4 separate regions of the Homo sapiens genome follow, and all the other regions are linked to region 4. The links come from fine-mapping of genetic effects on gene expression. A gene starts in region 4. Each other region holds a variant in brackets. All regions are shown on one strand. Distances are from middle to middle.

Region 1 (8,115 bases), 58 kb after region 4:
CCCAAGTAGCTAGGATTCCAGGCATATGCCAACATGCCCAATCCACAAAGGTTCTTAAGGTGGAATTATTATAAACTGAATTAATGAGATAAAAGTCAAACACTGAGTTAATTACAGAGAAAAAACCACCCCAACAGGTCCAGTGAGAACAAAATAAGGACAATGAAATTATTTTTTATTGTATTGTACATATTATATATAGTACCAACTATATTTACTTCTAAGTACACATATGCCATAAAAGACAAACAAAACAGATAAAAATCCTAGAAATGAGACATACTTGCCCAATACAATCATATGAAAAGATTACCATCATACATAATAGCAGTCACACATTCTAAAATTTGTAGCCGCTGTAAAAATGGTTTATATACTCCAAAACCTTTATTTCATGCCACTGATCATGTCGCCTTTATCATCACTAAAGAAACATGCCAGTGTCATGTATGACAAAAGAAAGATTTTTCTCTTGAATCAAGCATGCAGCTCAGGGAAGGAAGGATGGCGGCTCTCACCCTAATTAGCCAGAGAGGGACCAGGACAAATCAAACCTGGAGACCAACAATGTAACACATTCTTCCCAGAGGCCTTCACAGCCAGTATGAAACTAAGAACCAGGAACCAGGAGATCTGAGTTCAATCTTAGCTTTGTTCCCAGCAGCTAGTTTCTGGGCTCAGCTGCCTAATCTTTAAAGTAACTAAGCTGACTGAGCATGGTGGCTCACACCTGTAATCCCAACACTTTGGGAGGCCGAGGTGGCAGATCACTTGAGGTCAGGAGTTCGAGACCACCCTGGCCAACATGGCAAAACCCCAACACTACTAAAAATACAAAAATTAGCCAGGTATAATGGTGCATGCCTGCAATCCCAGCTACTCAAGAGGCTGAGCCACAAGAATCACTTGAACACAAGAGGCGGAGGTTGCAGTGAGCAGAGATCATACCACTGCACTCCAGCCTGGGCAACAGAGCAAGATCCTGTCTCAAAAATAAAAATAAAAATAAAAAATAAAGTAAATGAGTTAAGCTAGGCCGGGTGCGATGGCTCACGCCTGTAAGCCCAGCACTTTGGGAGGCTGACGCAGGTGGATCACGAGGTCAGGAGTTCAAGGCCAGCCTGGCCAAGATGGTGAAACTCCGTCTCTACTAAAAACTACAAAAAATTAGCCGGGCACAGTGGCAGGCACCTGTAATCCCAGCTACTCGGGAGGCTGAGGCAGGAGATTGCTTGAACCCGGGCAGCAGAGGTTGCAGTGGGCCGAGATCGCACCACTGCACTCCAGCCTGGGCAACAGAGTGAGACTCCATCTCAAAAAAAAAATAAAATAAAGTAAGTTAAGCTAGTTAATCTAATAATGAGAGTCTCTCTTATACTTATGAAACTCCTTCCAGCTCTAAGATTCTTTGTTAACTTTGCATTTTATTGAGCCATCTTAGTGGCAAAGGCATTCCACATAGTATACAGAAGAAAGCTATATAATAATATAACTGCACTTTCCTATCTACTTTAAAGAATTGTTTCTACATAGAAATATAAAAAGGAACTGGGCGCAGTGGCTCGTGCCTATAATCCCAGCACTGTGGGAGGCCAGGGCAGGCAGATCACCTGAGGTCAGGAGTTTGAGACCAGCCTGGCCAACATGGTGAAACCCCATCTCTACTGAAAACACAAAAATTAGCTGGGCATGGTGGTGGGCGCCTGTAATCACGGCTATTCGGGAGGCTGAGGCAGGAGAATTACTTGAACCTGGGAGGTGTAGGCTGCAGTGAGCCGAGATTGTGCCACTACAATCTACCCTGGGAGACAGAATGAGATTCCATCTCAAATAAATAAATAAATAAATAAATACAAAAAGGACAAAAAATAATAGAGACATGTATTTCACTGAATGCAGACCTTGGGTAGGTTAAATGAGACAAGAAAAAAGGGAAAGAAAATAAATAGTATATAAAAGCATTTGACTAAGTATACTTATCTGAACAAGATACAAAAAAAAATCTGAACAGCTCTGAGGTTGATCAGTAATTGCGCTCAACTAAATAAGATACATCTCATGAAAAATAGAGTTCACAATACAAGCATATACAGAATAATGTGTTTTCAGCTCATAATTTAAAAGAGTAGCTTTGGGTAGAAAAGATGTTGTATACAACAAAGTTAATGGACTTTCCATTTAATAAGAGAAGATTTGGATATTGTAAAGAAATCCAATAGATCCTTTGATGAAAAGGCAATACTTAAAAAAGAATCTAGGATTAAAACCCTTGAGAAAATTTTCAGTGAAAATCTTTTCCTGATACATATTAGAAGTTGACAAAATTAATACCTGAAAATGTAAATAGACATATTAAATCTAAATAAATATTACTATTTTCTTACCTTTTGCATATATAAAAAGCACCCAACAAAAATGGAAAATTTCAGACACAGTACAGGGCTGTCGCCTTTGGGGGAAGAAAAAAAAAAGTCATGAGACAACAGAAGAATCAGAAAAAAAAATCCCAAATGATTATAAATCAGGTGTAAAATAAAACCCACAGTTAAAGGGAGAGACAACAGATTCAGCTTCACATGGAAAACGTGGACGTTCTGCCTTAACAAAATATTGGTAGGAAATAGCTGGGATCCAGGGAAAGAGCCCATCTCAAAGAAAAGAAAATTCTTAAAGAATTTTTTAAAGTTTTTTGAGGGCAAGATAGGTGAGGTGGAAAATAAAATGAATAAAAATAGTTCTTTTGATGACACAGCAATGCTATGCTGCTTTAGGACCACTATATGCAGTCAGATATGTCCTTATTTTTTTCTCCTTTATCATAGCTAATGACCTGTATCCCTCCCTCCCTCCTTAAAGATATTCCAGACTATATCAAATCACAAAAGGCCTTTTTAATGTAAATTATGAGCTTCCTATAATTCCTTATACTTCCATCCATTAAGAGTACCTGTTGTATATTGCCAAGTAGTCTGCCAAGTTTCAGACCTGCTTTAAGCTTGGCTTTTCTACCAAAACCTCTGACAACTTTTAGACAAGAAATCTGTGGTCTCCACCTCCCAACAGCCTTATTCTAACAAGGTGCCCAGAAGAACGAAATTCCGTGGAGAAGATTAGATTAGATTTAGTTCCAGCACTGCCATTAGCTAGGGTACTTGCTCACCTGGGCCTTAGTCATTTCATCTGTCAAAAGATTACTCTACTTGGGTACAATACTGTACTTAGTTCACCAGTCCATGGCAAGGATTAAATGTCAGTGTTCTGCTTTTAAAAGTAGCCTCTCTACCATAGGCGCATGATAAACTATTTCTAGTTTTAGTTGCCTACCAAAATAAAATTCAATTTTTTTTAGCTTAACACTTAAGCTACTCTTAATTCTGGCTCTACAACTTGAGAATTCTAGAAAAAAAAACTTGACTAACCTCCCACATTTCTTCTTGCTTTACTGCTTTTGTCTTTTCTTGTTTCCTCTACACAGAAGGTGCTATCTGTATCTTCAAATTCACCTATCAAACTCGTACCCATCTTTCAAGACCCATTTCTACTTATTCCATGTAAACTTACCTGACTGGCTCATCCAGAGTGATTTCTTTTCCTCCTAAGTTTTACATCTGTATTCCCTCTGGTAGTCATGGGACTTTTATAACACACTGCATTGCATGCACTGGAATCTTCATACCTGCCTCATCTCGCTGACTGTACTGTAAGCTCTCAGAAGACAGAGACTGTGGGGTTTGGTGTTTTAAAAAATGCCTGTGTCCTACATAATACCTAACAGTATTTCCTGTGGATAAGTGCTAAACAAATAGTGACACATTTTCAGATAGTGTGTGAGAGATGCAGTATATAGTCACAGTAAAGCACATGGGTTCCCGCAGTCAGTTTCAATAAGAACTCCACGCTTGGTTGTGCGACCCTGGCCAAATTACTTAACCTCTCTGCGGCTAATTTTCTCTATCTAACAATAGTATGAGTATCACAAGGTTGTCAGAGGGATTAACTGAAGTAATACATATTGAAGTCTTAAGAGTCCCTGCCCCAAAGTAAATGCTCAGTAAGTGCTATACATTATGACTATAGTTAACAGAAAGAGCTAACAGAAAGTATACAAAGTGATTAAAATGTAAAATCTCTAATAAAGTGATTTACTTTTTTTTTTTTTTTTTTGAGACAAGGTCTTGCTCTGTCACCCAAACTGGAGTACAGTGGTATGAGCACAGCTCACTGCAGCCTCAACCTCCCAGGCTCAAGTGATCCCCCCACCTCAGCCTCCCCAGTAGCTGGGACCACAGGTGTGCGCCACCACTCCAAGCTAATTTTTCTATTTTTTGTGGAGATGAAGTTTCGCCATACTGTCCAGGCTGGTCTCAAACTCCTGGGCTCAAGTGATCTGTCCACTTCAGCCTCCCAAAGTGCTGGGGATCAGGTGTGAGCCACTGCACATGGCCTTTTAAAATTCTCTTAATTAGAATTAGGTAGTATATATATCCTAAGAAATAGCAAAACAAGTGCAATCTGAAATTATTTTCCAGATACTCCAAAGAAAGAAG[A/G]TATCTTCCCATAAATGATCACATTGGCCTCACTCAGACTCAGTACAAAGCTTCTATTCAAACTTTAGAATACTTCATTTTTTATTTATTTATTTGGAGACGAAGTCTCACTCTGTCACCTAGGCTGGAGTGCAGTGGCGCGATCGCAGCTCACTGAAACCTCCGACTCCTGGGTTCAAGTGATTCACCTGCCTCAGCCTCTCAAGTAGCTGGGACAACAGGCACACACCACCATACCTGCCTAATTTTTGTATTTTTAGTGGAGATGGGGTTTTGGCACATTGGCCAGGCTAGTCTTGAACTCCTGACCTCAAGCAATCCACCTGCCTCGGCCTCCCAAAGTGCTAGGAGAATATGTCATTTTATTTATTTATTTATTTATTTATTTATTAAAATGGAGTCTCGCTCTATCGCCCAGGCTGGAGTGCAGTGGCGTGATCTCGGCTCACTGCAACCTCCAACTCTGAGGTTCAAGTGATTCTTCCACCTCTCCCTCCCAAGTAGCTGGGATTACAGGCACCCACCACCACACCCCGCTAATTTTTTTATTTTTAGTAGAGACGGGGTTTCGCCACGTTGGCCAGGCTGGTCTCGAACTCCCGACCTAGAGTGATCCACCCGCCTTGGCCTCCCAAAGTGCTGGGATTACAGGCACTCAGCCAGAATACCTCCTTTTATTTGTTTACTTATTTATTTATGAGATGGAGTTTCATTCTTGTCGCCCAGGCTCGAATGCAATGGTACGATCTTGGCTCACAACTTCTGCCTCTCGGTTCAAGGGATTCTACTGACTCAGCCTCCCGAGTAGCTGGGATTATAGGCATGCACCACCACGCACAGCTAATTTTTGTATTTTTAGTAGAGACGGGGTTTTGCCACGTTGGCCAGGCTGGTCTTGAACTCCTGAACTCAGGTGATTCGCCTGCCTCAGCCTCCTAAAGTGCTGGGATTACAGGCGTGAGCCAACCCGCCTGGCTCAGAATGCTTCATTTTAAATAGTCAATTCCCCAAAACTGTAAGTGAGCTAGACCAGATGCTTCTGTATCAGTGGTGCCATCTATATTAAAATGTAAATAGTTCTAGTTTTTTTAAATTTTTTTTCCTCCTGGTTTGTCATTCCCCCATTTTATTTTTAAAAGGTTACACTTAATGTAAACATCCTTCACAGTCTGGGAAAACTTTTATATTTAAAGAGAAGCAAACATTATTTATTCTAGCCAAATAATTTTAACTCCTTTCCCTTTACTTTTCTTGTCAACATTTTTCTAATTGTTAGAATTTTCATTTCTACTTTATGAAAAAACTTTCAATGATAAAGAAGGAAAATGTGTATTCCATAACTGCCTTTATCTATCAGGAAAGGTAGAAAACACTGAGTCAGAGCATGCTTATAGACTTTGCAGAAGTGATCAGAAAGCACAAATTCATAATAGTTTCAGTTCTCCTGTCTTTTCCCAATCCAGTCTCTCTATTCTGAATTCATTATAAACATCAAAATACATAGAGAAGTCATTTCAAGGGGATTATTTATTACTCAGTTTGACATAAAATAGTCTATATAATCACTAGTAGAAAATATAGTGGTTAATATAGTGATCTATATCTAGGGCAGTGCTCCCTTCGGCAGCACATATACTAAAATTGGAACAATACATTGATTAGCATGGCCCCTGCGCAATAAAAAATATATATATCCAGATACAGATACAGATACATCTCCAAGGCGGCGAAAGGGTGAAAATCCCTAAGTCTGACTTGTACAGTCTGCATTTTTTGTTGCTTAAATGAAAAAGGAAGGTTTCAGAACAAGGATCACTGAGGAAAAAATAATAATAAAATAAAATAAGACAAATGAAAGTTTATAGAAACAAAGACCTGTATACATTTAGCAATATGAAAAAAGCCACTCTTCATGGCTAACCCACAATGAAAAGCAAAAAAAGCATCATTAAAAGAAAACGACTGAGGAAAAAGATTTTTTAAATCTTATTTCTTTTTTAAAACCAGAAAAAAAAAACCTAGCAGAATATCAACACTGCAGCACAGACTAACGTGTATTCCTGATGAACCAACAAGAAAACCTACCGCTGTTTCCTTCCTCGCTGCTGACGAGGTTGCTCCTCTTGAGGGTATTTAAAGATGTCCTGAAAAATGGGTTCATATTTCTTAAAAATTACAGCAGAAACAGTGAAGTTTCTTTCTAATCTCTCAGTACGTTCTCTGAAATGTGGGGGTAGATTTGCCATGTCTTCCCACTTCTTCATCTTATTAAAAAATTCGATTAAGCTGGTATTAAAGACAAACAAGATATTTCATAATTAACATAAGGCTAAAGTATACAAAAGTAAGTATTCAAAAGTAAATCAATATTATCGCATTAAATTATATTACTTTTAGACAGTGAAATAAAATCACAACTCATGTCTCTGACTAGCTTAATTTCTTACAGATTGGTATATTCCTCTGATCCTCCTAATCCATTTTGTTTAGGTTACCTAAAGTATTTGTTAACTATGAAATATTTGAAAATACAAACCAAAATTAACAAGAGTAACCTAACCAACATTCACGTTGGTTCACTGCCAGATTTTTTAAATGTTAATATATTAAATAAATTTTGTCGTTTTTGTTTTTGTAAGAGATAGGGTTTCGTTCTATCACCCATGTTGGAGTTCAGTGGCAAGATCACAGCTCACTGCAGACTCCTGGGCTTGAGTGATCCTCCTACTTTGGCTTCCTAGAACACTGTGATTACAGGTGTGAGCCACCTCCTCCTGCCACTTCAGATTTTTTTTTAAACTAGCAACACTATAGAAGCAGTCAAGGCTAGGCGCAGTAGCTCACACCTGTAATCCCAGCACTTTGGGAGGCCGAGGTGGGAGATTCACAAGGTCAGGAGTTTGAAACCAGCATGGCCAACATGGTAAAACCCGATCTCTACTAAAAATACAAAAAATTAGCTGGGCGTGGTGGCGGGCACCTGTAATCCCAGCTACTCAGGAGGCTGAGGCAGGAAAATCACTTAAACCTGGGAGGCGGAGGTTGCAGTGAGCCGAGATCACGCCACTGCACTCCAGCCTGGCGACAATGCGAGACTCTGTCTCAAAAAAGAAAAAGAAAAAGAAAAAGAAACAGTCAAAATTACCATTTTATACTCCTCCCTAATCCCATCCTTACCCTTCTACCCCAAAGATAAAAACCATTCTAAAGTTGGTCTTAATCCTTCCTATGTTTTCACACTTACTACACATACACATGTATGTGTAAACAATAAGCAATATCTTATTACGTGTTTTTACATTTTATATAAATGCTATCATACTTCAGTGGTATTCTGCAACTTGCTTTTTCACACTCAATAATGTTTCTGACATTAATGTTGATATGTAAGATATATTCATTTTAATTGCTAAAAACATTCTTTCATATGAACATACAATGACTTTTTGCATTCACTCCCCAACCAATGGAAATTTAGGTTGTTTCTAATATTCCATGATAACAAAACATGTTGTAATGAAAACATCCTTATACATGTGTGCAGGAGTTTCTTTGGGGACTACTCCAA
Region 2 (8,142 bases), 25 kb after region 4:
TGGGTTCAAGCTATTTTCCTGCCTTAGCCTCCCGAGTAGCTGGGATTACAGGTGCATGCCACCACACCCAGCTAATTTTTGTATTTTTAATAGAGATGAGGTTTCACCCTGTTGACTAGGCTGGTCTTGAACTCCTGACCTCAGGTGATCTGCCCACTGTGGCCTCCCAAAGTGTTGGGATTACAGGTGTGAGCCACAACGCCCAGCCTCTAAGCAACCTTTATCAATAAAAATCTCATTATGTAAGGGCCTTCACAATCCAGTTCCACTCGCTAACATAGCATGATGCCCGTAATTAAGCTTTGGATCACTGTCTGCCTCAAGGACACTGTTTTCTTCCCCTTAACCTGCTTCCTGCTGAGTGCCCTTCCATACCTCAACAGCTCCCTGACTTTTCAACATTAAGGCCTGACTCAAGCTTCCTTCCCCTTCTTAGAATGAGGTGGCTGTTGCCACATACATCTGTGCTAATATGACTATTGCACTGCAATGTCAAAAATGTCAACTTCTCCCATTAGCCAGAGTCCTGAGGACACTGCCTGTCCCAGAAACAGGCCTTTGGTAAGGAATCCAAAATTTCTTTCCCTAACAAATGTGGAAAATTGTTACAAATGGGATAAACACAAATTTCAGGTTTACAGCAAAATGTACAAATAGGAGAGGGAATAAAAAGAAATCCAAATCCCTTACCCTGTTTCCCACCCTAAAATTCCACCCCCTCCCCCTCAAAAAAGGCAAAAAACAAAACAAACCCTGGGTTTTGCTTCATGAGGACTGACTGATCACTGCTCCCTGGCAGCTCTCATCACTCTAATGAGTGCCTAAGCTTAGCACAAACCCTGTTTCTAGCATCTGAAGCATTTTGAGGTTAGTAAAGGCCAAGATTGATGTTAGGCTCACCTTTGAAGGACTGTTGCTGAAGTAATAGAAAATCTTTTCTCGAGGAGAAAGCATTGTTTCATTTTTATGTGGGGAAATGTAGACAGGATGATTTTGAGACAACTGTATTCGGCGAGGGGAGCCTGTTCTTACAAATGGATAGGGAGAGAGTGGAGGAGCATCCATCTGTTTAAAAAAAAAAAATCAGTAATTCTAAGAAAAAAATTTATAATTATTTTTACTGAAAATGATTATTGAGTGAAGAGGTGTGCTAAACCAGTAGTTTTATGAATGACAGAGTGATGTATTAGCAATAACTTAACCTAAAGAAAAATATTCTAATAGCAAACCTTAAGTGCTTAGTTTGTGCCAGTTATTATTTTAAGCAATTTTTATACATTATGTCATTTCATCCTTACAACAACCCCATATGCTAGGAACTAGTTATATTCCCATTTTATATATGAGGAAATGAGGTACAGAGAAAATTTAATGATTTGCAAGGTTACCACCACTGTTAAGTACTGGAAAATTTGAACCCATGTAGCCTGTCTCTTGTACTACTATACTTTGTAGGGACTCCAAATACAATCTTACTCGTTTAATGCTTAACAACAGTAGAATTTATATTGGTTAGGTAAATTACAGACCTCCTCAGTTTTACTTAATAGAATTATTTGTAAAACTAGCTTATTTATGAGACAGAGTCTTGTTCTGTCACCCAAGCTGGAGTGCAGTGGCACAATCTCAGGTCACTGCAACCACCGCCTCCCATGTTCAAACAATTCTCCTGCCTCAGCCCCCAGAGTAGCTGGGATTACAAGTGTGTGCCACCACGCCCAGCTCATTTTTGTATTTTTAGTAGAGACTGGGTTTTACCACGTTGGCCAGGCTGGTCTTGAACTCCTGACCTCAAGTGATCTGCCCTCCTCGGCCTCCCAAAGTGCTGGGATTACAGGTGTGAGCCACCACACCTGGCCAAAACTAGTTTATATACGGACCAGGTGAATGGTCCATATATAAATCATAAATGATTCCTCAACACTCATGAGTGAAAAAAGTATGAAATAATCCCTGTCATACTTACATTTGCCTGTGAGTACTTCATGGCAAATGTCTTAATCTGTTTGATGTAGATGTTGTTGTAGAACTGAATGAGGTCTCCCCTCTCCTCTTCTTCCATGTCACTGTTGGCACCTGTGAGGCGAGTAGGTGTGGGAGGAGCACTGCTGGGCTGTGGAACTGGCAAGGTGCTGCTTGACCTCATAACTGGACTGGAGTCTCTACTGGCTGCAGCCAGGAGAACAAAGGCTGTCAGTACAAAGGCTGCTAATATTGACTGTTTTAATTTTTTAAAAGTAGGAGAAAGGGAACAGCTACCTGCACTACTTGCTAATAACAGTGAATAGGCACTCTGTTCTTCACACCAAAAAGCAAAGCTCAGCTAGGATATTAACTTTCTCCCTATGCCATAACCATAGCAAGGGCTTTCTGAGTAGTGTCCATTAATAAGTTACACCAAATTTTCTAGGACCTAAGCCCTGTACTAAGTGGTACAAAGCAACAGGCAGGGGATGGTATTTCCATAGCATGGTTCCAATTGACATATCAGACCTTTCTGGAACTCAGGCAAGCAGATTCCTCCCTGAAAGCTCTAATTCTCCTGGAGAAAAATGTTACATAATATGTGCCCCAAAGCTATGTAATGGACAGTTTTGCCAGCTAGAATATGGTTTACTGATCTATAAAACACTTTCATAGTTTCTATAGTTATTTCATTTAGTAATGCTTAGTTACTTCTTCAAGGCCTAAAAAGTAAGAAAAGCTCCTAATTTTGTCTTGTAGTTCACAAAGATCCCACTTACTTCTATCTTTGTTTAGTTCTGTTGGAGAATTCTGATGGCTTCTGCTATCACTGCTGCCAGAATTTCTTCTTTTTCTTTTCCCTTTTATCAAAACACTTCTATACACCTTTAGAGAAACAATGAGAAGGGGACATAAACTAGTATTTGTTGAGCACACCCTTGGTGATAGGACCTTCACATATGTTACTTGGTTTTCACAATAACCTGTATAGCAATAGTTGTCCTCAGAACAGGTTGAGAAACATAACTCAAATTATAACAGATCCAGGATTCAATCAGAGCCCATCTAGCATCACATGCCAAGTACTACCTGCAGTACTACACTGCAGTGACAGCACCCAACCATAATGTCAAGTCATTCTAAGTAAGATACACAGATCTGGCCGATTTGCCTCTCAGAGATGAATGGTAATAAAGGCAAAGTGGGTTTTAAATTTCCATGTGACATTCTGTTGGTTAAACCTACAGTATGTTTACTAAACCAGAATGAAAGGTGACATAGAAACCAAGTAACTTCTTAATTCCTATCTTGTGATTTTTCTGAATTAAGAAGGCAATCAAATATTTAACATTGTTGCCTTTTGAGGAAAAGAGACCTTAATCAACATGTGACATCAAGAATAAAGATTAAAGTAGAAACTTCCCTTAAGTAGAGTCCCAGGTGTTTATCTTGGAAAAAAGGCCACAGAGTCAACTATGGTTAATTTTTTGTATTCATCACAGACTTTAAGCTTTATTTTTCAGCCCATAGAGAAAATGTAGTTACCTGGCTCCGGGCCTGCGGCTGAGTCCTATAACAACGCATAATGTTCTGGAAGGACTTATCTTCTTTTGTGACCTGGCAAACAATAAGAGTGCTCTGAGAGACATGGCAACTACCACCATAATAGTGTGAGGAGCTCTGTGAACCTGCTGCCCAGTAAAAGGGGTGAAAATTATATAAAAGCTATTTAAAGTCTCTGGAAATGGTATTAACGGCATATAGCAAATGAAGATACATCGATTCAAGAATATCTATTAAAATTCAATAAAAACAATAGGAGTCTATAGTATGTGAATCAAGACTTAGAGGCCAGGTGCGGTGGTTCACACCTGTAATCCCAGCACTTTGGGAGGCTGAGGAGGGTGGATCACTTGAAGTCACGAGTTCAAGACCAGCCTGGCCATCATGGTGAAACCCAGTATCTACTAAAAATACAAAAATTAGCCGGGCATGGTGGCACATGCCTGTAATCCCAGCTACTGGGGAGGCTGAGGCAGGAGAATCACTTGAACCTGGGAGATGGAGGTTGCAGTGAGCTGAGATTGAGCCACTGTACAGCCTGGGTGACAGAGCAAGACTCTCTCTCAAAAAAAGACTTGGAGTAGAAAAGTACAGTAAATGAAATGAAAAATTCACTAGAAGCTAGGGAAAACAGATTTGAACTAGCAAAAAAAAAAAAAAAA[G/AG]GATTAGCAAACATGAAGAAAGAGATTGTGTGATCTGAGGAACAGAGAAAGAATGAAGAAAAACAGCCTCAGAGAAATGTGGCACACCATTAAGGAAATCAACATACGTGTAATGGGAGAATCAGGAGAGGAGAGAAAGAAGCAGAAAAAAATGTTCAAAGAAATACTGAAAACTTCCCAAATTTATTAAATTACATATCCAGGACATTCAGTGACTTCCAGGTAGGATAAACTCATCCGTACCCAGATATATCACAGTAAAAATGTTCAAAGCCAAAGAAAGAAAATATTAAAAGCATCAAGAGAAAAACAACTTTTCAGTTACAGGGAAACCCCAATAAAATAAAATTTGACTTCTAATCAGAAACTACAGAGGCCAGGAGGCAGTGGGATAACATTCAAAGTGATGAAAGAAAAAATATTAAACTAAGAATCCAGTATTAAAAAGTTACTCAAGATTTTTATCTCTGAAATGTCAATATTCAAAATTTTTGCAAGTTATCTTTCAGAAATGAAGGTAAAATAAATATACTCTCAGATAAACAAAAACAGAATTTGGTGCTAGCAAACCCCTTACAAGAAATACTACACAAAATTCTAGAAGCCAAAAGCAAATGCCCCTGGACAACACTACACATGAAGAAAGCCAAGAGCACTGGTAAAGATAATTATGTAATCGTAAATACAGTATAACTGCACATTTCTTCTCCTTTCTTAACTGATTAAAAAATCAATTGTATAAATAATATATATATATAATGTACCCATAACATACAAAAATGTAACATATTTGCCTACAACAGTACAAAGGAGGTAGGCAGGAGCAAAGCCATATTGAGCAAAGGAAATTACTCCAGATGGCAACTCACATACACAGGAATGAATAAGAGAAATAGAAATAGGCTGGGTGTAGTGGCTACTCCTGTAATCCCAACATTTTGTGAGGCTGAGGCAAGTGAACTGCTTGAGGCCAGGAGTTCGACACCAGCCTGGGCAACATGGCAAAACCCCGTCTCTACAAAAAAATACAAAAATCAGCCGGGCATGGTGGCACATGCCTGCACCCTGTAGGCCCAGCTACATGGGAGGCTGAGGCAGAAGGATCATTTGAGCCCGGGAGGCAGAGGTTACAGTGAGTTGAGATTGCACCGCTGCTCTCTAGTCTGGGCGACAGAGCAAGACTCAGTCTTAAAAAAGAAAGAAAGAAAGGAAACCAGAAATTATTAATAAGGTTACTAGAGCAAAAGTTTTAAATACATACTTACACTCCTTTCCTTTCTGCTACTTTAGAAGTCATAAAATTGTATCAATAATTATAACAATGTACTGGTGGAGTTGTACATTTATGGATGTAATATGTGTAACGAAACAGTTAACACTCCTATATCTCACTGGAATTAAGTCAGTATAATCTGAAGCTGATTTTTGATAAGAGATATATGGTAAGCCCTAGGGCAACCACTACACACACACACACACACACACACAAAATGAAACCAAAGTACTGACGTTAAAATGCTACTTTAGAAAATATTGACCTAATGCAAAAGCAAAGCTGCAAAGGCAAAGGGAAAGACATGAAAACAAAAAGTAAAATGGCAGATGTAAATCCAATTATATACATAGTCAAAAGGCAAAAGAAATCCAAATGTATTTTATCTACAGGAGACATTTTAGATTTAAAAAATACAAATACATTCGAAAATGAAAGGATGGAAAGAGGTATACAGACAGCAACCATAAGAAAGCTGGGTGACTATATATCTCACACTATAAATCAGACTTCAGGACAAAAAAAGTTATTAAAAAGGGACATTCCATAATGATAAAAGGATCAAGCCATCAGGAATCTATAACAGTTATACACATACCTAATAACTGAGCACAAAAAATACCTGAAGCGAAAAGTGACAGAAGTGAAGGGAAAAGTAGACAATTCAGCAATAATATTTATAGATTTCAGTACCTCACTTTCAAGAATGGAGAGATGATCTAGGCAGATCAACAAGGAAACAAAACACTTTACTAACAATATAAAACAATTAGACCTAACAGACATCTACAGAACACTCTCCCCAACCTCCACAGAATACACACTGTTCTCAAATGTACTTTGAAATTCATTAGGATAGAGCATATATGCTAGGCTATAAAACAATTCTTAATATATTTAAAAGAACTGGAATAAAATGAAGTGTGTTTTCAATCACAATGAAAGTAGAAATCAGTAACAAATTTGGGAAACTTACAAATACGAAGTTAACAACATATTGCTACATAACCAGTGAGTCAAACAGAAGCCAAAAAAAGAAATCAGAAAATACTTTTGAAATGAAGACACACCATACCAACACTCATGCAGCTAAAGCAGTGCACGGAGGAAAATTTAGAGTTGTTAATGCTTACACTGAAAATGAAGAAGGGCCAAGGGCGGTGGCTCACACCTGTAATCCCAGCACTTTGGGAGGCTGAGGAGGGAGGATTGCTTGAGCTCAGGAGTTCGAGACCAGCCTGGGTAACACAGCAAAATCTCGTATCTACAAAAAATTAGCAGGGCATGGTGGTGCACGGCTGTGGTCCCAGCTACTCAGGAAGCTTAGGGAAGAGGATCACTTAAGCCCTGGAGGAAGGCTGCCGTGAGCACTACACTCCAGCCTAGGCGACAGAGCAAGATGCTGTCTCAAAAAAAAAAAAAAAAAAAAAAAAAAAAGATATTGAAATATTAGAAAGGTATCTTTTAAAAGATACTGATATCTACGTAAAGGATTTGGGGAAAAAAGATATTAAGAGAAATAGTAAATTAATTACCTAAACATCCATCTTAAACCATCTTAAAACAACAGAAAAGGGCAAAAAGTAAGCCTCAAGTAAGCAGAAAGAAGGAAATAAGATTATATACTAATGAATAAAGAACACAAAAATAGATAAATGAAACCAAAAAGCTGGTTTTTAAAAGAAAAAGATCAAGAAAATTGACAAACCTTTAGCTAGACCAAGAACAAAAGGGAGGAGTCTCAAACTACTACAAAAAGCAGGGCACAGGGGCTCATGCCTGCAATCCCAGCACTTTGGGAGGCCAAGGTGGATGGATCGCTTGAGGCCAAGAGTTTGAGACCAGCCTGGGCAACATGGGGAAATTCCATCTCTACTAAAAATACAAAAACTAGCTGGGCGAGGTGGCACAGGCCTGTAGTCCCAACTACTCAGGAGGCTGAGGCACAAGAATCACTGGAAACCAGGAGGCTAAGGTTTCAGTAAGCCAAGATCATGCCCCTGTATTCCAGCCTGGACAACAGAGTGAGACTGTCTCAAAAAACAAAACAAAACGAAAACTACAATCATAAAAGGAAAAGGACATTACTACTGACCTTAAAGAATAAAAAAGAACAGAAGGAAATATTATAATTATTTGCCAACAATTTAGCCCAGAGGAAACAGACAAATTCTTAGAAAGACATACACTACCACAACTGATTCTAGAAGAAACAGATGATCTGAATAGACCTATAACAAATAAGAGACGGAATTATTCACCAATAAACTTCCCACAAGGAAAATCTCTGGTCTCAACAGCTTCGCTGCTGAATTCTACCAAACTTTAAAACATTAATACCAAGAAGCTCATATCCATGGGTCTTTCAGGCAGCTGTAAATTAAAAAAAAAGGCAAAGGAAAAAATATAATACCTAAATATAGAAGAGAACACTTCCTACTCAATTCTATGAGACCATTATTACCCTGATAATAAAACCAGACAAAGCCACAACAAGAAAACTACAGACCAATGCCTCTTATGCATAAGGATAAAATTCCTTAGCAATCACTGCTGCATGTGGAAACTTGAAAAAATAAATATTTTTTTTAACTGAAAACAAATTCCTCAACAAACTGTTGGCAAACCAAACCTAGCAACATATAAAAAGAATTATAGGCTGGGCACCGTGGCTCACGC
Region 3 (8,141 bases), 83 kb after region 4:
AAAATAAATTTTATAGAAGAAAGGATCTGGTATGGTAAATTCTTGTCCTAAAGTAAAATGACTGGTTGTTTAAAAAGAGGGATATTTAGGACAAATAAGAAAGTCCAAGCATGTCATAGATGTTCTGTATAAGTCATGAAAGGATTCATAGAAGAAAAATTTATGCACCAAAAGTGAAAGTTGCTAAGAATTACCATTATAACATGTAATTAAGACTACTAAAGGTATAGGTTGGCCAGGTGCAGTGGCTCACATCTGTAATCCAAGCACTTTGGGAGGCTGAGGTGGGAGGATCACTTGAGTTCAGGAGTTCAAGACCAGCCTGGCCAACGTGGTGAAACCCCCTCTCTACTAAAAGTACAAAAATTAGCCAGTGTGGTGATGGGCTCCTGTAATCCCAGCCACTCTGGAGGCTGAGGCAGGAGGATCACTTGAACCCAGGAGGTGGAGGTTGCAGTGAGTCAAGATCGCACCACTGCACTCTGGCCTGGGTGAAAGAGCGAGACCTTATCTCAAAAAAAAAAAAAAAATAGGTTTACATGCAAGGTGTGTGAGGAGAATAAAATGTTTTTCGTAAGAGATTATTCAAAGGCATGGGAATGTAAATTGTTTCCTAGTTTAGAGGGTTAAAGGATTGCTTTAAATAAAATAAAGCTATAGGCTTAAACAAGTTGTGGAAGGTTTGTAAAAATTAACCTTGTAAAGGAAATTCTGGCTGAGTGTGGTGGCTCATGCCTGTAATCCCAGCACTTTGGGAGGCCAAGGCAGGCATATCACTTGAGGTCAGGAGTTTACAAACAGCCTGGCCAACATGGTGAAACCCTGTCTCTACTAAAAATACAAAAATTAGCTAGGCATGGTGGTGCACACCTGTTGTCCAAACTACTCAGGAGGCTGAGGCAGGAGAATCACTTGGACCCAGGAGGCAGAGGTTGTTGAGCTGAGATCGCACCACTGTACTCCAGCCTGGGTGACAAGAGTGAAACTCTGCCTCCAAAAAAACAGAAGGAAAGAAAAGAAATTCTATGTGTGAAAATATTGACTAAATTTAAAATGGTATTATTAGATTTTTCCATAAACTGAACATCCAAATAAAAGTACAACAAGGTTTTCTTAAAGCACTAATCTGCTCTTTAACAAAAATTTGTAAAGAGTTATAAAAGGTTTATGAAAATCTTGCCTTATGGTCAAACTGATTAAGATTGGATAGATTTGTCTATACAATTTTACTAAAAATTGGGGTTGACATTAATAGTCCACTAATGCAAATGTGAAATTCGTCTTTCTCTCTTGAACAAGATTTTCATGTTATATTAAAAGTAAGATAATCAATTTTTTTTGTTTGTCTTTTAAATGCTCCACCAAAAAAAAAAAAAAAGGAAGGGAAAGACAAAGGACAGATTGTTTGCAAAACTAATCCTTCCCTTTATTAATGAGTAAAAGTTTTTGCCTTTTAAAAATTTTTGAGTCATTAGTTTGGCTAAATGAATGACTTATGGTGACCTGGAATTCTTGTTCATAATATCAAGTGTTTTAAACTTTTATCATATTTAATATGCTTCCCAAAATCAAGTTTCAGCTTCAAAACGGTCTTTTCTAACCTTTAACTTTGGAATGCTACAGAGGGCCCCTGAAGCATCCAAAAGACAGGTAAACAGAATTATTTGACATGTTAGATTACATGGGAAGCTTTGTCAAAATAAAAATAATGTTTAATCTTCAGGTTATATTTTAGTAAATGATATTAATATATGTTCCAAAATTGTATGAAATTTATAAAATTCTAGTATGTCTAAGCATATGCTATCAATTATAATTATTGTTATTATGTAAAGTTATTGTACACCACAGAAATAACCAAATTTCCTTGTATAAAACTGCTAACCTAAATAGAACAAAAAAATTAATTAAATACCAAGAAAATACTTTGCCAAATTTTCATGTTAAACCAGCTGATATTGAAATTGTTTAGACATACAATTTAAACTTCACAGTCTAAGTCAAATTACCTATAATAACTCATTAGTTATTAGTGCTATGCACCTAATTTGGGGAAACAACTGGTATTCAAGAGGACATAAGTTGAATGTTAAGCATGGATTCATGGAGAACCAGGGTGGCTGCCTTGTCCTTCCTGAGTCCTTAAAGCTTTTTGTTATTGAGGGTTCTGCATTCCATGACTCATGATGGAAAAAATAAAATAATCCCAGTTAAATATATTAATGTGGTGACTTATAAAATGCAAAAATAGTTTAAAACCAATGTTTGGTTCCATATTCCTGGGAAGACAATAAAACCACCTGGTACATTTGGCTACCTGATGGGTCACTTAAACATTTATTAAGGAGTTTCATTCAGTTGTCATTTTTAATGCATGTTTTAGGTTATAAAAATTATTATGCCACAGTATATTTTAATCAGGTAAAGAAAGATTTTTTATGGTTCACTGAGGACAATCAACCCCTTCACAATCTAGAACTTGAAGACTGGATCTTCTGAGGACATCAGAGAAAGGCTGTCCTTGCCATCCACATTGCAACAAAATTTTGACACCTTGAAACCTGGGTTCATAATCTTACAACTGAGAAGAGTCCGTCGACACTCTTAGAAGTACACACCCATTGGAACCCTTAAGGTAAAACTAACCAGGAAAATTTCTCCCCAAAGGAAGATGTCATGCTTGATGTGAACAGCTTTTCCCAAGGTCACGGATCCAGACTGCCACTATCATAATGAGAGGTGACAACATGCTAGCAGCCCTCGCTCACTCTCGGCGCCTCCTTGGCCTCGGCGTCCGCTCTGGCCACACTCGAGGAGCCCTTCAGCCTGTCGCTGCCCTGTGGGCGCCCCTCTCTGGGGCTGGCTGAGGCCAGAGCCGGCTCCCTCTGCTGGCCGGGAGGTGTGGAGGGAGAGGCATGGGCGGGAGCCGGGGCTGCGCGCGGGGTTCGTAGGCCAGCGCGGGTTCCCGGTGGGGGCAGGCTCGGCAGGCTCCCACACTCTGATCAAGCCAGCGCCTGCTAATTTCATACACAGGGAAATGCAGGCAATCGGGAATAAAAAATAAATAAATAAATAAAATAAATAAATAAGTACATAAAAACTGCCTTCTTAGCCCTTGTGTCATTATAAACAATTATTGTGGCTGGGTGCGGTGGCTCACACCTATAATCCTACACTTTGGGAGGTCAAAGCGGGTGGATCACTTGAGGTCAGGAGTTCAAGACCAGCCTGGCTAACATGGCAAAACCCCATCTCTACTAAAAATACAAAAATTAGCTGGGTGTGGTGGCGCATGCCTGTAATCCCAGCTACTCTGGAGGCTGAGAAAGGAGAATCGCTTGAACCCAGGAGGCGGAGGTTGCAGTGAGCCAAGATCACGTCACTGCACTCCAGCCTGGGAGACAGAGCGAGACTCTGTCTCAAACAAACAAACACAACAATTATGGCCAGGTGAGGTGGCTCACGCCTGTAATCCTAGCACTTTGGGAGGCCGAGGCGGGCAGATCACGAGGTCAAGTTAGAGACCATCCTGGCCAACATGGTGAAACCCCGTCTCTACCAAAAATACAAAAATTAGCTGGGCATGGTGGCCCGCGCCTGTAGTCTGAGCTACTCAGGAGGCTGAGGCATGAGAATCGCTTGAACCCGGAAGGTGGAGGTTACAGTGAGCCAAGATCGGGCCACTGCATTCCAGCCTGGTGACAGACCAAGACTCCATCTCAAACAAACACAAAAACAAAAAACAATTATTGCCTTATGGTGCCTACAAGGATGTTGGAGTGGTGTGGTATTACGGTATGGTATTATCTACCCTCAACTGCTTTGTAGCACTGAGGTTTTAGACATTGATATAGCTGAATATTTGTCCCCACCCAAATCTCATGTCTAATGTAATCCCCAATGTTAGGGGTGGGACCTGGTGGGAGGTGAAGTCTGATC[G/A]GGTCGGAGCCCTCATGGCTTGGTGCTGTCCTGCAGATGGTGAGTGTGTTGTCATGAGATCTGGTCAATTAAAAGCACGTGGCTCCTCACCCCCTCTCTCTTGCTCCTGTTCTAGCAATGTGATGTTCCTGCTTGCACTTCACCTCTGCCATGCTTAACAGTTCCTGGAGGCCTCCCCGGAATCCTAGCAGACACTGCCATGCTTGTGTTACAGGAAAGGGATTCCGATCCCTTTAGACATACAATTTAAACTTCACACTCTAAGTCAAATTACGTAAAATAACCCATTGTCAGGATCTCTCACAAGAAAGAATTTGGGGAGAGTCCATGGAGTAAAGTGAAAGTAGGTTTATTAAGAAGGTAAAGGAATAGGCTGGGCACTGTAGCTCACACCTGTAATCCCAGCACTTTGGGAGGCTGAGGCGGGCAGATCACCTGAGGTCAGGAGTTTGAGACCAGCCTGGCCAACATGGTGAAACCCCACCTCTACTAAAAATACAAAAATTAGCCAGGTGTGGTGGTGGGTGCCTGTACTCCCAGCTACTCTGGTGGCTGAGGCAGGAGAATCACTTGAACCTGGGAGGTGGAGGTTGCAGTGAGCCAAGATGGGGCCACTGCACTCCAGCCTGGGTGACAGAGCGGGACTCTGTCCCCTGCAGAAAAAAGAAAAAAAGAAAGTAAAGGAATAAAAGAAAAGAATGGCTTCTCCACAGGCAGAAAAACAGCACAGGCTGTTTAGCTACTTATACTTATTGTTACTTCCAGATTATATGCTAAACAAAGGGTGGATTATTCATGAGTTTTCTGGGAAAGGGGTGGGCAATTCCCAGAACTGAGGGTTCCTCCCCCTTTTAGACCATATAGGGTAACTTCCTGACATTGCTGTGGCATTTGTAAACTGCCGTGGCACTGGTGGGAGTATCTTTAGCATGCTAATAAATTATAATTAGCATATAATGAGCAGTGAGGACGACTAAAGGTTATTTTCATAGCCATCTTGGTTTTGTTGGGTTTTGGCTGGCTTCTTTACTGCAACATGTTTTATTAGCAAGGTCTCTGTGACCTGTATCTTCTGCTGACCTATCTCATCCTGTGACTTAGAATGCCTCACCTCCTGGGAATGCAGCCCAGTAGGTTTCAGCCTTATTTTACCCAACCCCTATTCAAGATGGAGTTGCTCTGGTTGTAACGCCTCTGGCACTCGTACAGCCTGCAGAACTGTGAGCCAATTAAACCTCTTTTTTTTTTTTTTTTGAGACAGAGTCTTGCTTTGTTGCCCAGGCTGGAGTGCAATGGCATGATCTCAGCTCACTGCAACCTCCACCTCCTGGGTTCAAGCGATTCTCCTGCCTCAGCCTCCCAAGTAGCTGGGATTACAGGTGCCTGCCACCAGGCTGGCTAATTTTTTTTTCGTATTTTTTTTTAGTACAGACTGGGTTTCACCATGTTAGTCAGGCTGATCTCAAACTCCTGACCTCAGGTGATCCACCCGCCTAGGCCTCCCAAAGTGCTGGGATTACAGGTGTGAGTCACTGTACCCTGCCCTAAACCTGTTTTTACAAATTATTCAGTCTCGGGTTTTTTTGTTGTTTTTTTGTTTTTTTTTTTTTTTGAGACAGAATCTCGCTCTGTCACCCAGGCTGGAGTTCAGTGGTGCGATCTTGGCACACTGCAACCTCTGCTTCCTGGATTCAAGCGATTCTCCTGCCTCAGCCTCCCAAGTAGCTGGGATTACAGGCATGCACCACCACGCCTGGCTAATTTTTTTTGTATTTTTAGTAGAGATGGGGTTTCACCATGTTGGCCAGACTGGTCTCGAACTCCTGACTTCAAGTGATCCACCACCTTGGCTTCCCAAAGGGCTGGGATTACAGGCGTGAGCCACTGTGCCCAGCCTCAGGTGTTTGTTTTTACAGCAACACACAAATGGCCTAACACAGACACTTTTACCTATTGTTGTCTTCCTTCTTGCATTCAAGCTGTAAGATGTTTCTTTTCCCTGGGCTCACCATATGATCTCTTGGTAACACTCTTTTTTCTGTCTCTTATTGTGGGGAGGGCTACTTGCAAACAGAGTAAGTAAAGTAGTGTCTGGGAATATGTATTAAGTTAAGGATGAATAGGACATGAGTAGCCAGTGCAGTGGCTCATGCCTGTACTCTCAAAACATTGGGAGGCTGAGGTGGGAGGATCACCCAAGTCCAGGAGGTTGAAACCAGTCTGGGCGATATTGCAAGACCCCGTCTCTACAAAAAATTTTAAAAATTTGCCAAGCGTTCTGGTGCGTGCTTGCGGTCCCAGGTACTTGCGAGGCTGAGGCAAGAGGACTGCTTGAGCCCAGGGGTTCAAGTCTGCAGTGAGCTATGATCGCACCACTGCACTCCAGCCTGGGCAACAGAGGGAGACCCTGACTTAAAAAAAAAAAAAGGCCATGGGTGAGGGCATCGCCTTGAGTAGAGGGCATGAACATTAATGATTGAGTTTAACAGGTTTGGTTCTTGGAGTCTGATTAGTCATTTATTCATTCATTTAGCCGGAAAGCCTGCTGTCCATCCATTAAAACATTCAACAAATGTTTAGTAAGTGCCTACTATATGTCAAATACTTTGCCAGACACAGGATATAGTAGTAAATGAGACAAGCATGGTCCCTGCCCTTATACAGCTGTGATCTCATGGGGAAAACAGACCTAGAACAAGAATTGGCAAATGTGAATACGACATATCATAAAAGCGAAACTTCAGGGAGCTATAGGAGCTATAGGAGTGCATCACAGAAGACCTTAACCGTGTGTGTGTTGGAGAGACAGAAAGAGGGAGAGAAAGGAGAGAGAGGAGGAGAGAGGAGTGAGGTGGGGGTGATTGGGTAGGTAGGAGGGGACAAAGGTTTTTCTTTCTTGCCCTTCATTTCCCTGGGGAGGAATCTGGAAGTTATAGCTAAAGGAAGGGGAGGAGGATTTGTTTCGGGTAGAGGAACATGCTTATTATGCAAAGAGCCTGAATCAGGGAAAAGCATGGCTGGTTCAGGGAGTTAAAAGAATGTGAACGTGGTTTAAGTGTAAAAAGTGAAAGGAAAAAGGCACAAGATGTGGGTAGAGATGAAGTCAAAGGCCTGGGGAAAATATCGGCCTTGATTCCAAAGATGATTAGAAGCCACTTAAGGTTTTAGGCTAAGGAGGGCAGTAACATTCTTCTCTCCCAAGAACTGAGAACAGTTGAGCAACTAAATAGTTGCTCAACTGATGAAGCTAAACACCGGGCTTGACTGACTTCCAGGCCACAGCTGGTAGGACGGATTCCTCAGTCATCATTCAAAATGTAAAGTCTTCTACCTGAGCCAGGATGAAATCTTTCTCTCCTTGCTATCAGCCAGTCCCTTCCTTGTGCCCCCAGGAGGCACTCTCAGCTCCTTTTTTTTTTTTTCCTTTTTTTGAGACAGAGTCTCGGCTCTATCGCCCAGGCTGGAGTGCAGTGGCACGATCTTGGCTCACTGCAACCTCCGCCTCCCAGGTTCAAGCAATTCTCCTGCCTCAGCCTCCCAAGTACTGGAACTACAGGCGGGTGCCACCACACCCGGCTAATTTTTGTATTTTTAGTAGAGGCGAGGTTTTGCCATGTTGGCCAGGATGATCTCGAACTCCAGACCTCGTGATCCGCCCACCTCAGCCTCCCAAAGTACTGGGATTTCAGGTGTGAGCCACCGCACCCGGCCTGAGATTAAATTTTTAAAGTTTAATTCCTTTGAGGTCATTGCAAATCATTCAATAGTTCATTCCTTATTACTAAGTACTATTCCATTGTATGGCTGTACCACGGTTTGCTTAGCCATCCACCTGTTGAAGGACATTTGGGTTTATAGTTTGGTTGTTAAAAATAAAGCTTCTGTGAAAACTCATGCACAAGTTTTTGCATGAATATCAACTTTTATTTCTCTAGGGCAAGTGGCCAGGAGTGCAGTTAGTGGGTACATAGTTAAGCACGTTTCTAATTTGTGAAAACAAAATAAAACAAAACAAAACACCAAGCTGTTTTTCAGGGTGGTTGTTCACCATTTTTGGATGGCACTATTCAGAGACCTGTAAACCTGCACTCTCCTGTGCACTGTTCATCCTCAAGGGGTGAAAGTAGCATAGCAATTGGGCCAATTACCTCACAGCTGCTGAATTTATGAACTTATTTCAGCCTCCCCAGTAGCTGGGATTA
Region 4 (8,000 bases):
TTAAAAAAAACAACAACATTAAATGCCTACTTTGGTCTCATCCTAAACATTATTACCCATAAAATAATGGCTTTAATGTGCTAAGTATATTTTTTCAAAGACATTAATATGTATAGCTAGATCATCCTCCCATATTTTGAACAGTATATGTAATCAGTGACATGTATACAGGAATCTACTTTTCAGAAAAGGACTTGGGGGCAAATGGATTGCGCTAAAAACATCGGCTTATATGTGTGCCTGTGTATGAAACATATGTATTTTAACAACCTTCAACATTTTATCCTTTCCTTCTTTCTGTGAAGGCCTTTAATAGTTAAGTCAGTGATCTAAACAGCTTTGTACAGTTACTTTTCCGGAGTCCAAAAGATGTATGATTCAGGGAATATTTTGCTGATTAGAACATGAGCAGAAGTCCTGAATACTCAGAGATCACATATCTATTAAGTCTGGATGCAAAAAGAACCTTTTGGTGCAAATATATCAAATATGCTTCAAAAATTGAGAATAGGAAATGTAATATGAAGCGATTTAAAATGTTTTATAGGTAAGGTTTTGGGTCCATTGAGATTTTTCTCAGCACTTTATGTTTTAGTCTTAAAGAAATGGTACCTTGAGGCCACCTCCTCATTTCCCTTTGAATAAATCATCCTGATTTTCATAATGAGTTGCTTTCTTGGTGCAGACCTGTGGGCGTGCAGGTAGGTGTTTCAAATGTACTTTTGTTTCTTCTGTCCTTCATTTGGCAAATATTTATTGCATGCCTACAACATCTAGCTCTTGGGTGCCGGGGAGACAATAGAAAGCAAAAAAATGGTTCCTCCTCAGGAGCTTACAGTGTGGGAGACAGACACTAATAATCTCCCAAATCAACAGCAAATTGCCCCCAAGGAAGTAGTGTTAGAGCTGAGATCTGTGTAGGGGATTGAAGAGAATGAACTGGGCAAAGGGAACGTTCACTGCGAAGGCCCCTTTTGTGGCAGGGCAGGTAGGGGAGCAACTCCCTTCCAAGGAACTGGAAGAATGTCAGAGTGGCTGGAGTCTGCAGCCACCTGGGGCTGGGACACAGCCATGGTGAGGAGTTTGGTCTTTGCCCAATGGGGAACCACTGAAGGGCTTAAATTCCTCAAGAAAATGGAGGTTCTGTCAGCAATGAAAAAGGGAGAAGTGGGTATTAGGTATACAGGCAATAGTGCTTACAGAAACACCCCAAACATACCTACCCAAAACACAACCCAGATTTTCCCATTTCCCACTGTCCCAAACCTGCTTGTGGTTCACTGTTTGTCACCTCAGTGAATGGCCTCACCATCCATCCTGTAGCTCATGCTAAAAATCTAGGTGTCAGCCATATCTGCCTCTTCATCCCCCATACCTAGTCCATGGCCAAGCTCTGTCCACCCCACCTGTATGAATCCATCAGTGTTGCTATAAAGGAATACCTGAGGCTGGGTCATTTATTTTTAAAAAGAGGTTTATTCAGCTCATTGTCCACTTCCTTGGGGCAATTAGCCATTGATTTGGGAGATGACTTGATTAGCATCTATCTCCCGTAGCTCCATGAGGAGGAACAATGTCTGTTTTGTTCTCCAACGCCTCCCCAGCATTTAAAGCCTAGATGTCATTAAGCATGCAATAAATATATGTCAAATGAAAGACAGAGGCAACTAAGTATAAGAAGCATGGCACCAGCATCTTCTGGTGAGGACCTCAGGAAGCTTCCATTCATGGCAGAGGGAGAGGCCAGCAGGAATCATTTGGCAAGAGAGAGAGCAGTGGTCAGGGGAGGAGAAGGTGACAGGCTCTTTTTGACAATCAATTCTCTCGGGAACTAATAGAACTCACTCACTACTGCCAAGAACTCACTACTGCCAGGACAGCACCAAGCCTTTCATGAGGGATCAGCCTCCATGACCCAAATACTCCCACCAGGCCCCACTTTCAACATTGGGGGTCACATTTCAATATGAGGTTTGGAAGGGTCAAACCATATCCAAACTATATCATCCCGTCTTAAACATCTCTGGAACTCATTCAATTCTCCATCTCTACCTTCAAATTCATGCGATTCTCTGTTGCCTGAACTACTGCCATGGTTCCTCAACTGCCCCGTGAGCCTTGTGCCCCTACAATCTGTTTTCCGCACAAAGTGATGTTTTCAAAATACAAATCTGATCATGGCTCTCCTCTGCCTAAAGTCCAGGCAGAGATCTAGGGAAAATCTCAGCCCAAGTCGATCATGGCGGACTCCTTCCACTTGCCGTTGACTGGGTTTCGTTGTGGCCAGAGACTTACTTCTGGCCATTGAAACCTGCAGGCATTTCTTCTGCGGAGCTTCTGGGAAAGGTAGTCATGTATTTCAAAAGGGACCACTGGAAGAAAGGGATACTTTTAATTTTGTGAGATCCTGGGTGTGCCGCGGCCATCTTGCTACCAGCCTGAAAGTGCAATTCCAGGGACTGCAAGGAAAGCAGAGCCTGAAGACCAGGGCACCACCTCTGGAGACAATCCTCCCATGGGAGAGAAATCCCCTTGCTAAGTAAGCCGGTTTGAGTTGGCTTTCCTGCCATGTGCAGTCTGATGCTGGTGTGCGTCTGAGTCATCCGGTGCCAAGTACGCAGTTGATGACATGCATTGGAAGCTCAGTGGATAGATGTGAGCTGGAGAAATACCTATGTGGGTCCTCGGTGAAAACTGAAGGTTGGGGAAAGGAGGAAAGCAGAAAAAAAGCTTTGCAGAGGATAATGAGCTTCAAAGAAGATTGGGAGGAAATGGGCCACAGAGGTGCCAAAGGAGACCACCTGTGGCCTGAAAAAAGGATTTCCTGCTTGCCTGCCTTTCTGTATTAAGACTCGTATTAAAAGGCATGATAACATTCCTAAATGTGTCCTAAGGGGACAAAAGGAAGTGGCTCAGAAGTGTTTTCAGCTAGGGGAGGAAGCTGGGTTTCAGAACCAACCCTTGGGATTAACATCAGGAGAATTTGGCTTCCTGCCCTTTAATAAGTCACTTACCAGAATCTCAGAGGCAACCAAAAATGGACCAAACAACCCGGCCAGAGAATGCGGCTTCTGAGTGTAAGACACTGAGGCGGTGTCACAGACAGGTCAGTGCCTCTGGTGTCTAGAAAAGGGGCAGGGGCTTGCGGGGAGAGGGCTGTCGCGCAAGTGTGGAAGTGGAGTGCCGAGATTGGACGGACTAACCACGGGGAGGCACCGTTGGTAAGAACAGGCCTGGAAAGCAGCTGGCAGCAGTCACAGAATTAGGCCAGAGAGAGACCTCCATGGGAAAGCAGACGGGAGGTCCAAATGAGAGCGTGTGAATTAAAAAAAAAAAAAAAAAAAAAGACCAGGAACTATGTTGCTATGGGAGAGGTTCTCCAACTTCAGTGTGCGCCAGAATCAGCAGCGAACTGTGACAGATGTGGATTCCTGGTCCTCAGCCTCCCCCCTCCCCCCAGCCCCCGGCCCCCACTCGGATGCTGCAGGTCGGGGCCGACACACACAGATTTACAAAGCTCCTCTGGCTGCTCTAGTGCCCAGGGCCCACTTGGAGCTGAGCTCCCTTCAGCTCCAGCCTTCAGCTCCTGCACTGATGGAGAGAACGGGCGTTTCTTGATGCCACGCCAAGTGTCCTTCTGACCCCTGGTACCCTGTGGGCCCGACGTGGCGGCCTCGGGCCTCGCAGCGCCGCCCAACGCAGTAGGACCTAGCGATGGGAGCCACTGGGCAGTCGCGCGGCCCGGCCCTCCCCAAAAGCTTGGCTTGCAGACGTTAGCGTATGCCCCAGCCCCTGCGCATGGCGGTTGCGCTGTGGGCTGTGCGAATAAACCTCCGGGAAGGTCTCCGTGGTGACTGGCAGACGCCCTGGCCAATTGTGACCCGGCGCTTGTTTGTCTCTGCCCCATCCCTCCCCGGGGGGCCGATACTTCCATGACTGACAGGCCGTCCCAGGCGCTGTTACGTAAGGGGAGGGTCAAGTGCAGTCCCACCCAAACCGGGGTGATTTGATTTGCAGGACCGAGTGTGTTCTTCCCAACGCCCCCGGAAGAACGTCTTTGACGGGCAGGTGTGAGAGCCAGTTGGCGCCGGGAGGCCAGGCGGAAGCCTCGGGCCCCAGGATCGTGCAGCAGGGGGCGGAGCCCGCTGCCGAGGGCAGGGCAGGGCAGGGCAGGGCGGGGTGGGGCGGGGCGGGGATCAAGCAGGGGCAGGGCTGGCGCTGCGGCGGGAGATGCTGTCGGGCCGCGGCGGCGCTTGGCAGCCAGGAGCTCTGCATTGAAGGCACTGGGGTGAGGCTTACTGCCCGGCAGGCTGGTGGGTACGCGAGGGCTGAGGTGTCTGTAAATCTGGCCGCCAGCCTCCACGGGCCCGGCATTTGTCCATCTTTCTAGGCGCTCGCGACTCGGCGACGGCGGCCGCAGTGGGACACGGAGGCGGGGCCGGGCACCTGTGCGCGTTTGCAGGCACCTGCTGCGCTGGCCGCCTCGCAGCCCGGGACTGCTGCTGGGGACTGCGGCTGGAGCTGGGCTGGCCCGGCCCGAGGGAGAGGGGGGCCCAGCTGGCTCGCCCCGGCCCGTGCCCGCCCTCCCCGGCCGGGTCCCGACCCCGAGCTCTGGTTAAGGGGGCGTCGCCGGGCCCCAGAGCCCCCCCACTGGAGGGGCCCGCGGCTCCCGGGCCAGCATCGAGCTAGCTGCGAGGCCAGGACAGGGCCCCCGCCTTGCATCACCTCGAGACAGGTTTGTCCAGATTCCCTGAGTGCTCAGAGACGGGTTTCCGCCCGCGGTGAGGGTGCCGGTCCGAGGCCGCCGCGGGTCCCGGCTGTCCCCAGCGAGCCTGGCCCGGGCCGTTTTCATCTTTTTTTTTCTGGCCCCTGCTCTGTCTCCTCTTAACGTGTAATTTCTTAAGTCCGATTCGGGGTGATGTGAGTGCGCTGTGGCATGTAGAGTAACAGCAGCACTCATGTTTTAGCCTAGTTTTAGCTCTGCCACGCACTGTCATTCGCGCAGGCTGAAGACCCAGACTTCTCAGCTGGGTGATGTAAAGGAATGCAGCCGTGGCCAAACAGGCAGAAATTCTAAAATTGTTTCCAAGTGACAAGGATGTAACATGTCTTGCTTCCATCTATGTCATTCCTCTCAGAACATGTATGCTGTGCTTGTCCTAGACTAGACCCTGAAAAGTGTGCTACAGTTTCTCGTGATTATGTTGCTGCTGGAAACATTGGATTAAAAGATCCATAGCAAAGTTAGGCAGCAGAAGACAATACCTCCTGCTTAATGACAGGCAGAACTGGGGACAAAATTTACTGGATTCTTAAAGAGAATCCTAACGCGTTAGACCTTTAAGAGACTTTACAGGTTTGCACCAGCCCATTAAATGTATGTTGTGGAGCACACCACTGTGTCCCAAGGGATCCGGTCCCGTGTTAGGTGTGTCCTAGAGGACACTGGGGTGCTGCACATTACTGCTAGATCTGAAAATCAGTGTCTTCATTTGAGCCAAAGGGGAACATGCCCCCGCACATTTTTGATATCTCAAGTATATTCAGTGTGTCATACTCACCTTTAAAGGCAGATTTGCGGAGAACTGTTGTTACTTATTGCATGTTATCCATGCTAGTAGAAGAGCCAGGATCTTCATTCCTCTGATTTAATTACTGGGTGGCATTTTCTCTTGGAAAACAAAACAGCAGTAATGGGCACTGGCAAGGTATGGATGACCTGGGTTGGGTACGTCCCTGGATGTCACAAGCTCGTCAGAGAAGACAAATTATTGCTGATTGGGGACATTTAGTACATGGTTTGCTCATGATCTGTTTAAGAAATTAGGAAAACGTTGCTTAGTTTTGACCCTTTTCACCTTCAGCCGTTTGATTGGTGCAAGTAGGAATTCAGAGAAGGAGCTCTGCTTTAAAGGTAACAGAGCCTGGGGGGAAATACCAGGGCAGGGAAGTTGCTGTTCTTACAGCTGGGCTTGGCTGCTTTTCCTTTGCTTCTTTGTATTTTTAGTAAATGACCCACTGACTTTATGACCTTTGAGACATGCTTTCTTATCCACGACTTGAAGCTTCGGCTGGAAGATCTGTACTTGTGAAATGTCTCTCTTGCGTGCCTGTGTTGCATTTGTCTGGATTGCTTGGCAGTTCCTTAAGTACATGATCCTGCAGTTTCTATATGTTTCGAAGTTGTAGAAGGCAGTTTATTGGGGGATGGTACTGACAGGACTCAGGTAACTACTTTTGTCGTCTTAGTGACATACTTGTGCTGTGCCTTCCTGTTTTCTCTTATTTCTTTGGCTAATACTTTGCTGGAGGAATCATTTTGTACTCAGGTGAGTTGAGGCAGCGCTTAAATCAGCCTCCTTGTATCTATTGTTTGTTCCCATAACCCTGGGAACAGTGATACAACTTATGTGTATGTGGGTACAGTGCATTCTGAGTCTGGCTTTCCTGTTAGTTAAATGCCGAGATGTGCTAGTAACAACTGTTGTCCGTATCTTCTGAATTTCTGGCACCAAAGCTCATCTGTGTCACTGAGTAATCTGAATCCTGGCCAAGGGACCTGGTGCACAGATTCTTATAGACATCTAAGTGTGAAAGAAATTAGAACCAGAAAAGGAGGTGGGTATAGAAGGAAACTATTTCTGAAGATGCCTGAAGACCTTTTCCTAGGTTTTTATAACCCCTTGTTATATAACATTATATTGTATATCCAGGGTGTCATAATTAGTTATTCATCATTTCAGAAGTCTTAACTGTTGGCCGGGCGTGGTGGCTCATGCCCGTAATCCCAGCACTTTGGGAGGCTGAGGCAGGTGGATCACTTGAGGTCAGGAGTTCGAGACCAGCCTGGCCAACATGGTGAAACCCTGTCTCTACTAAAGATACAAAACTTAGCTGGGCATGGTGGCAGGCACCTGTAATCCCAGCTACTCAGGAGGCTGAGGCAGGAGAATCGCTTGAACCCAGGAGGTGGAGGTTGCAGTGAGCCGAGATCACACCACTGCACTCCAGCCTGGGCAACAGAGTGAGACTCCATCTTAAAAAAAAAAAAAAGTCTTAATGGTTGGTGTTGGCATGTTTCTATGTCTTCCCGTCTTGTTTTAAGGTAAAGTGAATGCCGAAGACAGAAGATTTGGATGATACACCACTGACTTTCTTTGTTTGGAATACACGTTATGAACCCTTTCTGGAGCATGTCTACAAGCTCTGTACGCAAAGTAGGTATAGTTGATAAATTCAGTAAGAAAACCCATTTGCTTCTGTGTCTGAAAATAGGGTCAGAATGAAGGCTAAAATAATCTGTCACGGTCACCTGTAATCTTGACAAAATTACCTGGTTTTTCTAGTTAAGGGTTTACTCTTGAGAAATAATTATTTTGTTGGTTGAAGTCTGTTTCTGAGACTAGGATTGCATCTCAAATAGAAATCGTTCTGGTCATCACAATTCTAAGATGATTTAGGTTATATTTACACATGATGAAATTTGTAACATTGTAGTTTTCTACTAAACTTCAAGGTTCTACGGTTAGAACAGCTGTGGGAAAGGCTAGTCTAATATCATTAAATCAGACTTGAGGGGCACTAATTTAATTTTTCTAAATAAAATGATTTTTTAAAAATATATTTTCATTTTAGGAAAGGTTAAAATAGGCAAACAATAAGAAAATAAAAACCAGCTGGGCACGGTGGCTCATGCTTGTAATCCCCAGCACTTTGAGAGGCCGAGGCGGGCAGATCACGAGGTCAGGAGATCGAGACCATCCTGACTAACATGGTGAAACCCCGTCTCTACTAAATATACAAAAAAATTAGCTGGGCATGGTGGCGGGCGCCTGTTGTCCCAGCTTCTCAGGAAGCTGAGGCAGGAGAATGGCGTCAACCCAGGAGGCAAAGCTTGCTTGCAGTGAGCTGAGATCGCGCCACTGCACTCCAGCCTGGGCAACAGAGCAAGACTCCATCTCAAAAAGAAAAAAAAAAAAAAAAAACTATAATCTCACCTC

Evidence for each region. PIP is the estimated chance that this variant, and not a neighbour inherited with it, causes the effect.
Region 1: its variant is fine-mapped to the expression of AKTIP in tibial artery (GTEx, PIP above 0.99).
Region 2: its variant is fine-mapped to the expression of AKTIP in whole blood (INTERVAL, PIP 0.98).
Region 3: its variant is fine-mapped to the expression of AKTIP in cerebellum (GTEx, PIP above 0.99).

Annotation. Positions count from the first base shown.
Region 1 is chr16:53,441,376-53,449,490 of GRCh38, reverse strand. RBL2 (RB transcriptional corepressor like 2) reads right to left here. Exons shown (of 22, transcript NM_005611.4): 3 at 6,633-6,833; 4 at 2,385-2,449. It also overlaps the pseudogene RNU6-1153P. Among named protein-coding and RNA genes, the nearest start is that of RBL2, 11 kb to the right of the region's middle. The variant A/G (reference allele first, on the strand shown) is at 4,548.
Region 2 is chr16:53,474,594-53,482,735 of GRCh38, reverse strand. RBL2 (RB transcriptional corepressor like 2) reads right to left here. Exons shown (of 22, transcript NM_005611.4): 18 at 3,511-3,582; 19 at 2,745-2,850; 20 at 1,967-2,169; 21 at 901-1,065. Among named protein-coding and RNA genes, the nearest start is that of AKTIP, 25 kb to the left of the region's middle. The variant G/AG (reference allele first, on the strand shown) is at 4,191.
Region 3 is chr16:53,416,196-53,424,336 of GRCh38, reverse strand. No RefSeq gene overlaps it. Among named protein-coding and RNA genes, the nearest start is that of RBL2, 14 kb to the left of the region's middle. The variant G/A (reference allele first, on the strand shown) is at 3,940.
Region 4 is chr16:53,499,435-53,507,434 of GRCh38, reverse strand. AKTIP (AKT interacting protein) reads left to right here and starts at 4,226. Exons shown (of 10, transcript NM_022476.4): 1 at 4,226-4,288; 2 at 7,106-7,217. The coding sequence starts at 7,176. It overlaps LOC124903690 (a long non-coding RNA gene), which reads right to left and starts at 3,055. Exons shown (of 2, transcript XR_007065069.1): 1 at 3,015-3,055; 2 at 1,457-2,694. RefSeq lists silencers at 3,059-3,148, 3,869-4,108, 4,129-4,198, 4,459-4,758 and enhancers at 3,469-3,568, 4,029-4,528, 4,529-5,030.